Linked DNA regions of Homo sapiens. The protein of the gene in region 3 binds, or shares a complex with, the protein of the main gene of each other region. Each region holds a gene or a part of one and is shown on either strand. Other genes may lie near its edges. The genes, in order: HMG20B, MTA3 and HDAC2.

Region 1 (4,333 bases), on a different chromosome or scaffold from region 3:
GCACCCGCCACCACGCCCAGGTAATTTTTGTATTTTTAGTAGAGGGGGAGGGTTTCACTATGTTGGCCAGGCTGGTCTGACCTCAGGTGATACACCCGCCTCGGCCTCCCAAAGTGCTGGGATGACAGGCGTGAGCCACCGCGCCCGACCCCTCCCACCTTTCTTGATCTTCTTCTCCTGGATCTTCTCCGTGCACATCTTATAGGCTTCAGACTGCTGGTACGCCCGCAGCTCCTTCATGTACTGCTGCTTCTCTCTCTCGGCCTCATCCAGGTACCGCTGGGGGGCAGCACCAGAAGGCTTGAAGCAGGGGAAGCCTCCAACGCCAGGATCCAGTCTTTATCACTCTGCTTTCACAGCACCCTCCCCTCTCCTGAACCTTCTATAGCTCCCTATTCCCTCCAGGCAGACAGAACCGGCTCCTCAGCCTGTTGCTCAGGGACCTCCGAGCTCCCACCTCACTTCCCATGCCCCGGACTCTTCCCCACCTCCAGCCCTGACAAACCACTCCCGGACGCCAGAGTCATGGGCAGGAACCCAACCTCCAGCGTATGCGGATGCCTGGACTCCCTCCCGCACCCGTTTCTCTCTTTGAAATCTCACTTACAGGGATGCAAAGCAGTGATGGCTTTTGTTACATTTCCGTGATGTTTTTGCAATTTTTAAACTAACAGGATATGAAAATCGGGTTTCGCAAAAAATCCAGGCCCCATCCTGACTTCTTAGACATATCTTTGTTGGTCATCCAGTTTTCAATCTGTCTTGCCTCTTGCTAGCCGCGCCCCCAAAAGCTGGTCATGGGCTGGCCACGGTGGCTAACGCCTTTAATATCAATACTTTGGGAGGCTGAGGTGGGCGGATCATTTGAGGTCAAGAGTTCGAGACCAGCCTGGCCAACATGGCGAAACCCCATTTCTACTAAAAATACAAAAATTAGCAGGGCATGGTAGCACGCGCCTGTAATCCCAGCTACCTGAGAGGCTGAGACAGGAGAATTGCTTGAAGCCGGGAGGCGGAGGTTGCAGTGAGCTGAGATCACGCCACTGCACTCCAGCCTGGGCAACAGAGCAAGACTCCATCTCACAAAAAAAAAAAAAAAAAAAGTTGGTTATGGGTGGGCATTTCTCCAGGAAGAAGGAAAAACCCTGCACGTGGAATCCTTTGGGGGTCGGGGCTACTGGGGGGTAGTCCGTGGACCCCGCCAGCCCTGCTCGGCGCCCCGCCCCGCCCACCTGCTTTTCCGTTGGCTGCAGCTTGCTCCACTCGGCGCCCAGCATCTTGGTGATCTCGGGAAAGGGCAGATCCGGGTGGCGCGTGCGGATCTGCTCGCGCCGCTCGTTCAGGAAGCGCACGTAGCCCGTGACCGGTGCCTTGGGCCCATTCGGCAGAATCTTCTTCCGCTTCTTGCCCTTGGGCCAGCCGCGTTTCTTCACCGGCTGCAGAACCGGGCTGCGTCGTTGGGAGGGGGGCCTGGCGTACTGGGGCAGGGCTCAGAGGGGCATGGGCGGGGCCTAACGCGTATGGGCGGGGATGGGGGCGGGGCCTAGCTGGGAGGAAGAACCCGGAAAAGATGGAGGTAGGGCCCGGTCAGCAGTCGGGACACGGTGGGTTAGAGGGATCCCTGGCCAGGGGTGAGGGGATCTGAGGAACTATGGGCCGAGGTTTGAGTACAGGGTTGGCGTTGACTTCGGTTGTGGGCGTGGCCTCTGCTTGGTGGGCGTGGTTTTCTGCTGGAGAACGGGCCCACAGGACCAAGGGGAGGGTGCCGCCCCCAAGGAGTGGAAGTGGGCGGGACCTTAGAGTGGGCAGAGCTGGCATTGTGCGGTGGGCGGGGCCTGGACTTAGAGTGGCAGAGGACCTGTCAGGGGCGTGGCAGCTGGCACGGGGCGGGGTCTCAGCTTCCAGAGGAAAATGGGCTGTGGGCGGAGCCACAAGCAATTCAAATCCAGCCTGGGGCGGGGCTTCGAGGCTGGGGCGGGAGCCCGGGGCCTCCCCCAGCTCAGCGCAGGGACTCTCACCTCCTCCTCGTGGGACCCCTTCTCGCCCGCGCGTGGACCCTCGCCGCGCTCTTGCTTGACAGTCACCACGAAGCCCCCATGCTGGCCCGGAGCCTTGCCGCCCGCCGGCCTGGAGCCAAGGATACCGCGGTCAGCCCCGTCCCAAGAATCTCCCCTCCCCCAAAAGCCCACCCCAGGGCGTTTTGACCCCCGACGGCGGGGCTGCAGCGAGAGTGCATGAGCCCGAGGAGGCAGGGTCTGATGGGGTCAGTATCCGGGGAAGGTGGGACAAGCGGGGCTCCTGGGAGGGACTGGAGGCCGAGGTGGGGGGTGCAGAATTGGGTGGAGGGAGAAGCCCCCTGACCCAGGTGGGGGAGTCAAGACTCCGGCGGGAGGGACTGGGTCAGGGGTTCAGGAGCTAGGGCTGCAGCCGGGAAAGTAGCGAGGGCGTGGGGAGGGGATCAGTGCACTCACGCGGCGGCCGCGCCGGGCTGCTTGGGGCCGTGGGACATGGCCGCTCCGGGCCGGACCTGGAACACGGACGCGGGCGGAGGTGAGTAGCGCCCGGGCTGCCCGATGGCAGACCGCGAACTGGGGTACCCCGCGATGGAGAGCCCCGGGATGCCGGGCCCGGAGCGCTGGGGGGGCCGGATCCAGGGGCAGGGAAGTCCTCGAGGGCGGGCGCCCCAAGAATCCTTTGTTGGGCGATTGCCCCCCCCGGGAGGCCTGGGCCGGTTTCCCCCGGGCCAGGAAAGACCCCGGCCCGGCCCTGGGACCCCTGCACCCCCGCCCCCTCTCAGGGCCCGGAGTTCCGCGGCTGTTTTCACCTCCAAAGAAACTTTCCCGGACCTCCCGACTGCGCGACGCTCCAACCAACCGCCCGCAGCCCGCCCCCGTCGGCCGCCCCGCCCCTCCCCGCCCCCGGCATGCTAATGAAGGCCTCGGCGAACGGTCCCATTGGGTGAGACCTTCCCCCCGGGCGAGCCCATGCAGATACCGATCGGCGCGCCGGCCGGCGATTGGTTGGGGAGGTTGCTGAGTCGCGTGGGAGGTTGGTAAGGAAGGCTGCGGGCGGTGCGTCAAGTTCGGCTGCGCTCGGCCGCGCTCGGGACCAATCGGGAGCGAGTGGCGGACTTGCCGGGCGGAGCCTCTTAAAGGGCCAGTAGGAGAGGCGCGGACTCCTCCTCCCTCTCTGAAGGCAAGACTCCCAGCCGCTGCCGGATGGGGCGACCGGCGGATCCGGGTCGGGCCCCGCCCCGGTTGCCATGGGGACGGAGGTGGGTTGCTAGGGTTAAGGTCCTGCGAGGCAGTCCCCAGCCCTAGGCAAGGTGGGACCTGTTCTTAACATCCTGCAAAACCTAGCGGAGAAGTTTCCTATGTATTTACTCAGTTTAGAGCCCCCGACGTCCGGATCCGAGGGCTTCTGGCCATAGGGGCTGCTCTCCCTCTGGGGTCTCGGCTTTCCCCCCTGTGCAACGGGGACATCACACGATATCCAGGACAGAGAGACTGGGATGCTGGGAAGCTGAGAACTGGGTGTGGGTCAGGCAGGGGGTGGGGTTGGGAGCTGGGCTGGAAGTGTTTGGGGAAAGATGGTGGTGAAGGGAGATGGCAAGGACTTCGTGAGGATGGGTCAGGAGGCTCCGCTCTGGTGGATCAGGGACCTCCCAGCAGCAGTCTAGGCTTCTGGCCCAAGTTGGGGCTGCTCACCTCCTCTTTTGTTTTTGAGACGGAGTCTCACCCTGTCGTCCAGGGTGGAGTGCAGTGGCTGGATCTCGGCTCACTGCAACCTCTGCCTCCCGGGTTCAAGCAATTCTCTGCCTCACCCTCCCGAGTAGCTGGGATTACACGCGCCTGCCACCACGCCCGGCTAATTTTTGTATTTTTAGTAGAGACAGGGTTTCACCATCTTGGCCAGGCTGGTCTTGAACTCCTGACCTCGTGATCCACCCGCCTCGGCCTCCCAAAGTGGTGGGATTACAGACGTGAGCCCCCACGCCCGGCCCACTTCCTCTTCCTCAAGTCCGCTTAAATGTCACTTGCTCAGCCAGGCCTTCTCTGATTTTTTTTTTGCCTCCATAAGTCGGCTTCTCCCTGTGGCCTGCCTGTTTGGTTCACAGCATTGCCCATGGTGGATGCTCAATACACATTCATTGAATCCTTCAGATGTCTAGGAGGCAGATGCAGCTGCTTTGGAAAACAGACTGGCATTTCCTCAAAGGGTTAAATAAATGTGGAATCACCATGCAATTCAGCAGTTCACTCCTAGGAATATACTCCAGACAACTGAAAACAGGTGTTCAAACAAAAGCGTGTACACAAGCGTCGGTAGCAGC
Region 2 (3,649 bases), on a different chromosome or scaffold from region 3:
TTTACCATATCAGTTTAATTAGAAAGTTAATTACATCGAAATAGAAATCTTGACCTATGAGACCCTATATTCTTTGGCTGTCACTGCCCCTCTCTGACCTCCACTTTCGCTGAAAGCAGGTGGGAGCTCTGCCTTGCTTACTTGGCACAAAGCACAATGGGCTTTTGGCTGTTTCTCCCTGCAACCACCTTAGGAGGACCGTTTATTTGTGTCCGTCCTACCCCTCACCCCTTGCTCTTTTTTCCATATCATTTATCACCTCCAAATATACTTACTGTGTTTATTTTCATTACCTGTCTTCCTAGAGTGTCAGCTGCAGTGATCTTTTCTGTTTTGTCCAGTTATGCATTCTGAGTGCCTTAGAATAGTGGCTGGCACATAGTTAAAGGCATTCACTAAATACTTGTTGAATTAATTAATTTCTGAAATGTCTGATGTTAATGCTTATGTGTACATAGCTTTACTATTTACAAACTGCTTTGATTCATTCATTTTACAAATAAAATTGAGGACCTTCTACCAGCCAGGTACTTTTAGACAGTGAGAATGCAAGGGTGATAAAAAAAAAACAGGTCTAGTGGAGACAGACATCAACCATATAGTCCCACAAGTGAAAGTAAAATTGTAGCTGTGCTAAGTTTAGAAATGTCACAGCATGGTGCTCTGGAAACCTAACCCAGGATTCACGTTTGTTACCCTTTTGAGCCTCACAGAACCTTACACCTTAAGGTAGCTAAATCATGCATTGTTTTCTTGAGGCACATAGTAGCTAAATTATTGGGTTGCACATCTAGGTGAACATAGCTTATTTCACACTCCTTTATCATTTCATGGCCATTCATTTCTGAAATGCCCCCCTCATCCATCCTCACCTCCTCCCTCCGCCTACCTGTTGTCAGCACAGAGTCATCCATGTAATAGCGAGTTTCTGGGACTGGGGTTGTGTTGTGAGAGATGGGATTCTTTGTAATTTCACAAAATGGTAGTTTGAATGGCTAATTGAAATATTTACATAGGGTCTTTATTTCTGAAGGGATGTGAAAAAGACATCTTATTTTAGATAATTCATTAAGCAAATATTATTGAGTACCTGTTTTGTACCAGGCACTATGCTAGGCTCAGAGATAGAATGTGAACAAGATGTACATGGTCTCTACCCATACAGGGTCCACATTCTAATGAGGGAGACACCCGGAAAGACAAGTTGATGGGCATAAAGAAAATAGTAATAGTAATGAATTGTATTAACTTCTAAGAAGGCAAGAACCTTGACATAGAGAATGACAGGTCATTTCCTTTAGGTAGGGTGGAACAGGACATTGAAGTTGAGGCCTAAAGGATGAGGAAGAGGGAACCATGGGAAGAGAGGACGCAGGAGTGTTCTAGATAAAGGCCCTGGGAAGATCAGAGGTGAAATTGGCTAGGTAGGGAAAGTTGTTAACATGATGGGAAAATCCAAATAATGATTTAAAAATACTTGAAGACAGGCATGGTGGCTCAGGCCTGTAGTCCCAGCTGCTCGAGAGGCTGAGGCAGGAGGATTGCTTGAGCCTGGGGGTTTGAGACCAGCCTGTGCAACATAATAAGACCCCCCATCTCTGAAAAAAACCAAAACAAGGCCAGATATGGTGGCTCACGCCTGTAATCCCAGGACTTCGGGAGGCCGAGGTGGGTGGATCACCTGAGAGGAGTCTGAGACTAGCCTGGCCAATGTGGTGAAACCCTGTCTCTACTAAAAGTGCAAAATTAGCCGGGCATGGTGGCGCATGCCTGTAATCCCAGCTACTCGGGAGGCTGAGGCAGGAGAATCGCTTGAACCCATGAGGCGGAAGTTGCAGTGAGCTGAGATCGTGCCATTGCACTCCAGCCTGGGCAACAGTGAAACTCCATCTCAACAAACAAACAAAAAAACCAAAACAAAACCACCTCTAAACTGAAAATACTTACTTTGTTCTGATAGATAAGCTAGGGAAAAAAGGCTACTTGGGAGGCTGAGGCAGGAGGATCGCTTGAACCAGGGAGTTGGAGGTTGCAGTGAGCCGAGATTGTGCCACTGCACTCAAGCCTGGCAACAGAATGGTACTCCATCTAAAAAAAAAAAAAAATATATATATATATATATATATATATATAAAAATGAACTCTTAATTGCTGTAATGCACTTAGTCTCAAACCCTGTACTCATTTCATTAAATGCCATTAACAGTTGCAGACTGGCACTGGGCTGTAGACCCATGAGTAACCATGCTTCAGAAGAATGCTGGAGAGGGTGTGTTTGTAGAGGGGAAGAGGAATATGGTAGCTGTAAGCTACCTAGTAGCTAAGTGAGTGCATGGTCAAGAAGAGACTATTTATTTTGAACTATGCTCCCCGCCCCCTAAGCAGGTTTAAATAAGAATTTAATTAGCTTTGTATAGCATCCCTATTGGAGGAACTCACTAGTGAGGCAGAAAAAAATATGCCTTGAAACTGTTGATTTGGATTTTTTTTTTTTTTTGAGACGGATTGTCACTGTGTCACCCAGGCTGGAGTGCAGTGGTGTGGTCTTGGCTCACTGCAACCTCCACCTCCCAGGTTCAAGCGATTCTCCTGCCTCAGCCTCCCGAGTAGCTGGGACTACAGGTGTGTGCCACCACACCCAGCTAATTTTTGTATTTTTGGTAGAGATGGGGTTTTACTATGTTGGCCAGGCTGGTCTAGAACTCCTGACCTCGTGATCTGCCCACCTTGGACTCCCAAAGTGTTGGGATTACAGGTGTGAGCCACCGCACCCGGCCTGGATTTTTAATGTCTCAAGAAGAGACAAAAATCACATTGAAAATCCAAAGCAGCAGTTTCAAGGCATATCTCAAGAAGACAGAAATGACTAAGAGCTTATATTTGAAGTCATTGATAGATTTTATTTTATTTACATGGAAATTTTGGCCTGTTCATTTAGCAGATTGCTGGATCATTACTTCTGGAGAATGTATTTGATCACAATATTATGAAATATAGAAGCACTTTGGTTAGAAATTTAATATGATTTCAGTTTTAAGGGGCACTGTTTCCACAGGACTATTTCTTAATCTAAAATACGGCTGCTGGACTTCATAAAATTGACAAATTTACTGCAGCACTTATATTCTTCTTTGTATTTGAGTATATCTGTAAGACCAGAGAAATTTCTGAAAATTTGTTCTCACACTTGTTTGAAAATGGAAATCACAATAGCATTTTATTATAATCTGTGTGTTTTTACAGGGAACTTTGTAATGAATGATTGACCTTCTTGAGAGCTCTCAGAATTCTAGAGAATAGGAGAGCAGGAGCCTGGGCCCCAGCTGCAGTAAATGACAGCATAACTGAATTTTTTTTTGAAGCCATCATACTTTGGAAGAACCTAACTGAATATTGTTTGCATTGTAGATTGTAGCCAAAAAGAAATGAGAGTTTCAGTGTTCATAACTCAAGGTTTTTAATATTTTTAGATGTGAAGGTAAACTAAGTACTGCTTAGAATATTGACTCTTAGAGATTCATAGACTTCCTTGGTGTAGAGAATGCTTTTCCAGGTCACCTGGTCTATTCTGCATGATGGCTGCTTCCCACCTGCAGAGCTTCACTGTCCATGGAACATGGGATACTTAGGGGAGGGCTTGGTGATTTTA
Region 3 (3,649 bases):
GATGGGTCTTTTTCCTTTATTTGAGCTTTGTCTTTCCCATGTATATTTACATTATCTCAAAGCCAGTATCCTTGGGGGAAATTATACGTAATTGCTAAAATGTTGACATCAAAACTTTGCAGTTTGCTTTCAAAATGATGCTCATGTTCTCATTCACTAAGTGATTAAAGTTAACATCATCAGTAATGAGAGAAATTGAAATCATGCATTACCTGACTGGGTGCACTGAGAACACAGCATCATTCCTGTGATATTCTTGCCCAAAACATGCAACCTATATCTAACCATGAAGAAACATCAGACATGCCCACTGAGATATTCTACAAGGCCAGAGGGTTAAGTGACTTTCCAAATTTCACAGGACTTGTTGATGGCAGAACTGGAATAGGATTCAGTTATTCTGACTCCTGGACCTGAGATTCGATCCTATCCCATCCCATCTTATCCCATCTCCTTCTGTCCTCTTCAATCCTCTTCTATCCCCTTCCATTCCCCTTCCCACTTCTATTTCCATTCCAGTCCATTCTATTCCCATTCCATTTCACTCAAATTCCATTCCATTCCACAAATAATAATTGAGGCTTTATTTATGTGTTAGGCACTGTTCTAGACACTGGAGATTAATCCCCAGTGGAGTGTAAGACAAACAAAACCCTTGCCCTTATGAAACTCTTAATCCAGTGAAAGTAAGCAGAATGGTGGCTGCTCCTTGTCTGACATTCTTTGTGTGTGTGTATGTATATTATATAATATACATACACACACATATATACACATGTATATATATATATGTGTGTGTATACATATATATAGAAGGAATTCTCTTTCTTTTATCCCTTATTCCAATCCTGTTATTATTAAGGATTATATTTAACTTTACATGTTCAAATTAGTATAGTTCCTGTCTCCTGACTGAACGCTGATGCAGGGAAACTCTGGTCTCTGACTTTGATTTTTTTTTAATAGTAATGTTTGGTACAATCAACTGACTTAAAACTTTAAAAAACTGAATTTCTACGGGTAAATGTTTAAATATGAGAAAAAAGTTGACTTTAGAATGTCTAATAAGCCTATCCTATTCAACAACCAAGAAATAGATTTCATACCTATTACACATAAAGATATAAAGGCATATTTTGGACTTTAAAGAGCTTGCAGGACAGGAAAGGCAAAAACATTTTATCCTGAATGCCAACTATCTGGGTTAATGACTATCTGGGTTGATACGCATCTCAAGGCCAGAAAGGAATGATCAATTTGTGACATCAGACAGGTAAAAGACGGAGTGCTGGAAAAGCATGTCAGCTGTTACCTAGTCAGTTTCATAGATTTAGTAAACTGAAGCACAGAAATTTAAATGACTTGCCCAAAGCAAAGTTGTGTAATGTAAAGGCTGGTGCTAGACCCATATATGTGATTTCCAGTGCATTGTTCTTTACTTGTTGCTGCTCTAGATGATGATGGTGTTTTGAGGTCAGGTCGGAAGTACAAACAATTTAAGATGAGGCTTGTTTACCTTACCTATAGGGGTCCAGATGTGTTTTTCTGGGAAATCAGATTTATTGCCCACCATAGTCACAAACAGACTGGAAATAAGATAGATTTACAGAATTTTCTGCCTAACTCTAGAAATAGGATGGCAGAAGAGTCATTACATTAAGAAAGCCCAATGCTGCCATTTACTTTAAGACATATAAATTTGGATTTCAAACAAAACAGCTTACAAAAGGGTGTTTGGCATCAAAAGGGAATAGCACAGGAATTATACCTAAGTCCATTACATATAACACTGAACTATACAAGTAAATGTGTTTGACAATAACAATGCTTATTTGATTGTTGGGGAAGGTGACAGCTAGTAATACGTTGGACTTGAATTATATTTTTTCCTGGAAAATGGTATCTAGAGTAAATTTTTCGCACCTACTTGCCCAAACTTTCTTATCAGATGCTGAGTTGAAAAGAACATACCTAGATTCTACGGAAATTAGAAATCTAGCCTTTTTAAGAATATAACTTTGGAAATACTGGTGAATGGTAGATCTCCCATCCTCATGCTTGGAGGGCTATTATCTACCACAGGGCCACACAACAGTGCCCTCTTAAGCCCCTTAATTTCACCTAGTCTAGCCAAAGGCAACACAAGTTCAAACTTTCCGGCTAGACTTCAGAATAAGAAAATTTTTGAAGTGCATTTCTCACTTAAGGACATAGCATATTTAAAAAATAAGAGCAAAAGGGGAAATTCTTGTCTTTTTAAATCAAACATTATTTGTTGCCAGAAGTGTAATGACTTTTTGTTGGTATTTGTTAAGTACAGCCAGTTTTGATAATGTGCTCTCTTTTACTTTAGGAATTGCCTGTCCGTACTTTCCTTTAAAAGTTTTACCTGTACATCATCCTAGTAAGTATATGGCAAGGGCAGGGAAGTGACCCTGGATGTTTATTTCTGAAGAAACAAAAAAGATGACTAGTAGAGGATACAAGAGAAGCTGGAAGCTACTGATTTATCAATAGAATAAAAAATCCACAACACAAAAACAGATTAGAGTCTTCTTTGTTCAACTCACTCCTAAATACAAACCACTGGCTGCAAAATGGGTCTGGCCAAAAAAAATCTCCTATTCAGAATCCTGCTACTCATTTTACCTTAGAAATAATTATACATTTCTTTAACATTTAGAGTAAAAACAATCTTAATAAAAAGAGCAAATAACAGAATCTAATCAAGGTGTCTTCTGTCCTTAACTGTTTGTTCTACTAAAAAAGAATTTTTCATTAATAATCCTAATCATAACTCTGCAGTGTTCAAAGACCAAAGGGGTTAGGTACTTAGTTCAGTAAACAAAAGTCGTGGAACAAGCACCCAATGCCCCTGAATATTAACTTCACTATAACTATAATTCCTAGAAATAAATTTCAATTCTTTCCCATTCTGTATACTAACTGATTCTTACCACCAGTCAAAACAGAAAATTATTCTGGCTCTAATATTCAGTTCCATTTTGTCTGACTAGCAAAGTCACAATTAGTCAATGACTACCAGATACACTCTACTGTGTTTTGCAGATGTAAAACTTAGAAATTAGTGTTATAATTCTTATAGGAAAACCTAAATCAGTAAACTTAATTGTAGTTTAATTCAAAGTTTTTAATCCAATATTGCATTCAAAAAGAATCTGTTAATACATGTTGCTCTGCTTGTTACATGGCCACCAAGTGACTATAAGAGAAAACACACAGAAAAAAAAATTTTAAATGCAGTATCTGCCATCTTGTGGTACAGTGAGGAAATGCAGCAATTGAGAAGCTTCTAAATGCTGTAATCCTAAACATTTCTCCGCATTGCTCATGTAAATAGCCAATAATAACAATATGATAGTTCTATTTTTTCTGTAATCTACTTAATGCCATTTTTCTTGAGATTATCCTTGAGTAAATTACAGAGGCATCAAGATCCCCCCAAAGTTGTCAAATATTATTCGTATCCTTGCTAAAATCAGGTCTCCAAAAGATTGCTTCTCTATCCACTATGACCTAGTAGTCTTCACACTAGTAGGCATCAAACTGCAATAAAAGGCTCAGATACAACCCATCTGGCATCTAAAGGAACACTCAAAAATTTAACACTTCCCCTGGCACCACTCTC

The links.
Region 1: HDAC2 (region 3) and HMG20B share a complex: the UniProt entries of both Homo sapiens proteins name them as parts of the BHC histone deacetylase complex.
Region 2: HDAC2 (region 3) and MTA3 share a complex: the UniProt entries of both Homo sapiens proteins name them as parts of the nucleosome remodeling and deacetylase (NuRD) repressor complex.

Annotation. Positions count from the first base shown.
Region 1 is NC_000019.10:3,571,486-3,575,818, reverse strand, and holds the start of HMG20B (SWI/SNF-related matrix-associated actin-dependent regulator of chromatin subfamily E member 1-related), read right to left. Parts: upstream 2,876-4,333; 5' UTR 2,825-2,875; exon of another isoform or gene 2,528-2,824; 5' UTR 2,510-2,527; coding exon 2,472-2,509; exon of another isoform or gene 2,128-2,471; coding exon 2,019-2,127; exon of another isoform or gene 2,002-2,018; intron 1,437-2,001; coding exon 1,233-1,436; intron 280-1,232; coding exon 159-279; intron 1-158. UniProt on the Homo sapiens protein: Required for correct progression through G2 phase of the cell cycle and entry into mitosis. Required for RCOR1/CoREST mediated repression of neuronal specific gene promoters.
Region 2 is NC_000002.12:42,575,002-42,578,650, forward strand, and holds part of MTA3 (metastasis-associated protein MTA3), read left to right. Parts: intron 1-3,649. UniProt on the Homo sapiens protein: Acts as a component of the histone deacetylase NuRD complex which participates in the remodeling of chromatin.
Region 3 is NC_000006.12:113,933,026-113,936,674, forward strand, and holds the end of HDAC2 (histone deacetylase 2), read right to left. Parts: 3' UTR 3-3,649; downstream 1-2. UniProt on the Homo sapiens protein: Histone deacetylase that catalyzes the deacetylation of lysine residues on the N-terminal part of the core histones (H2A, H2B, H3 and H4).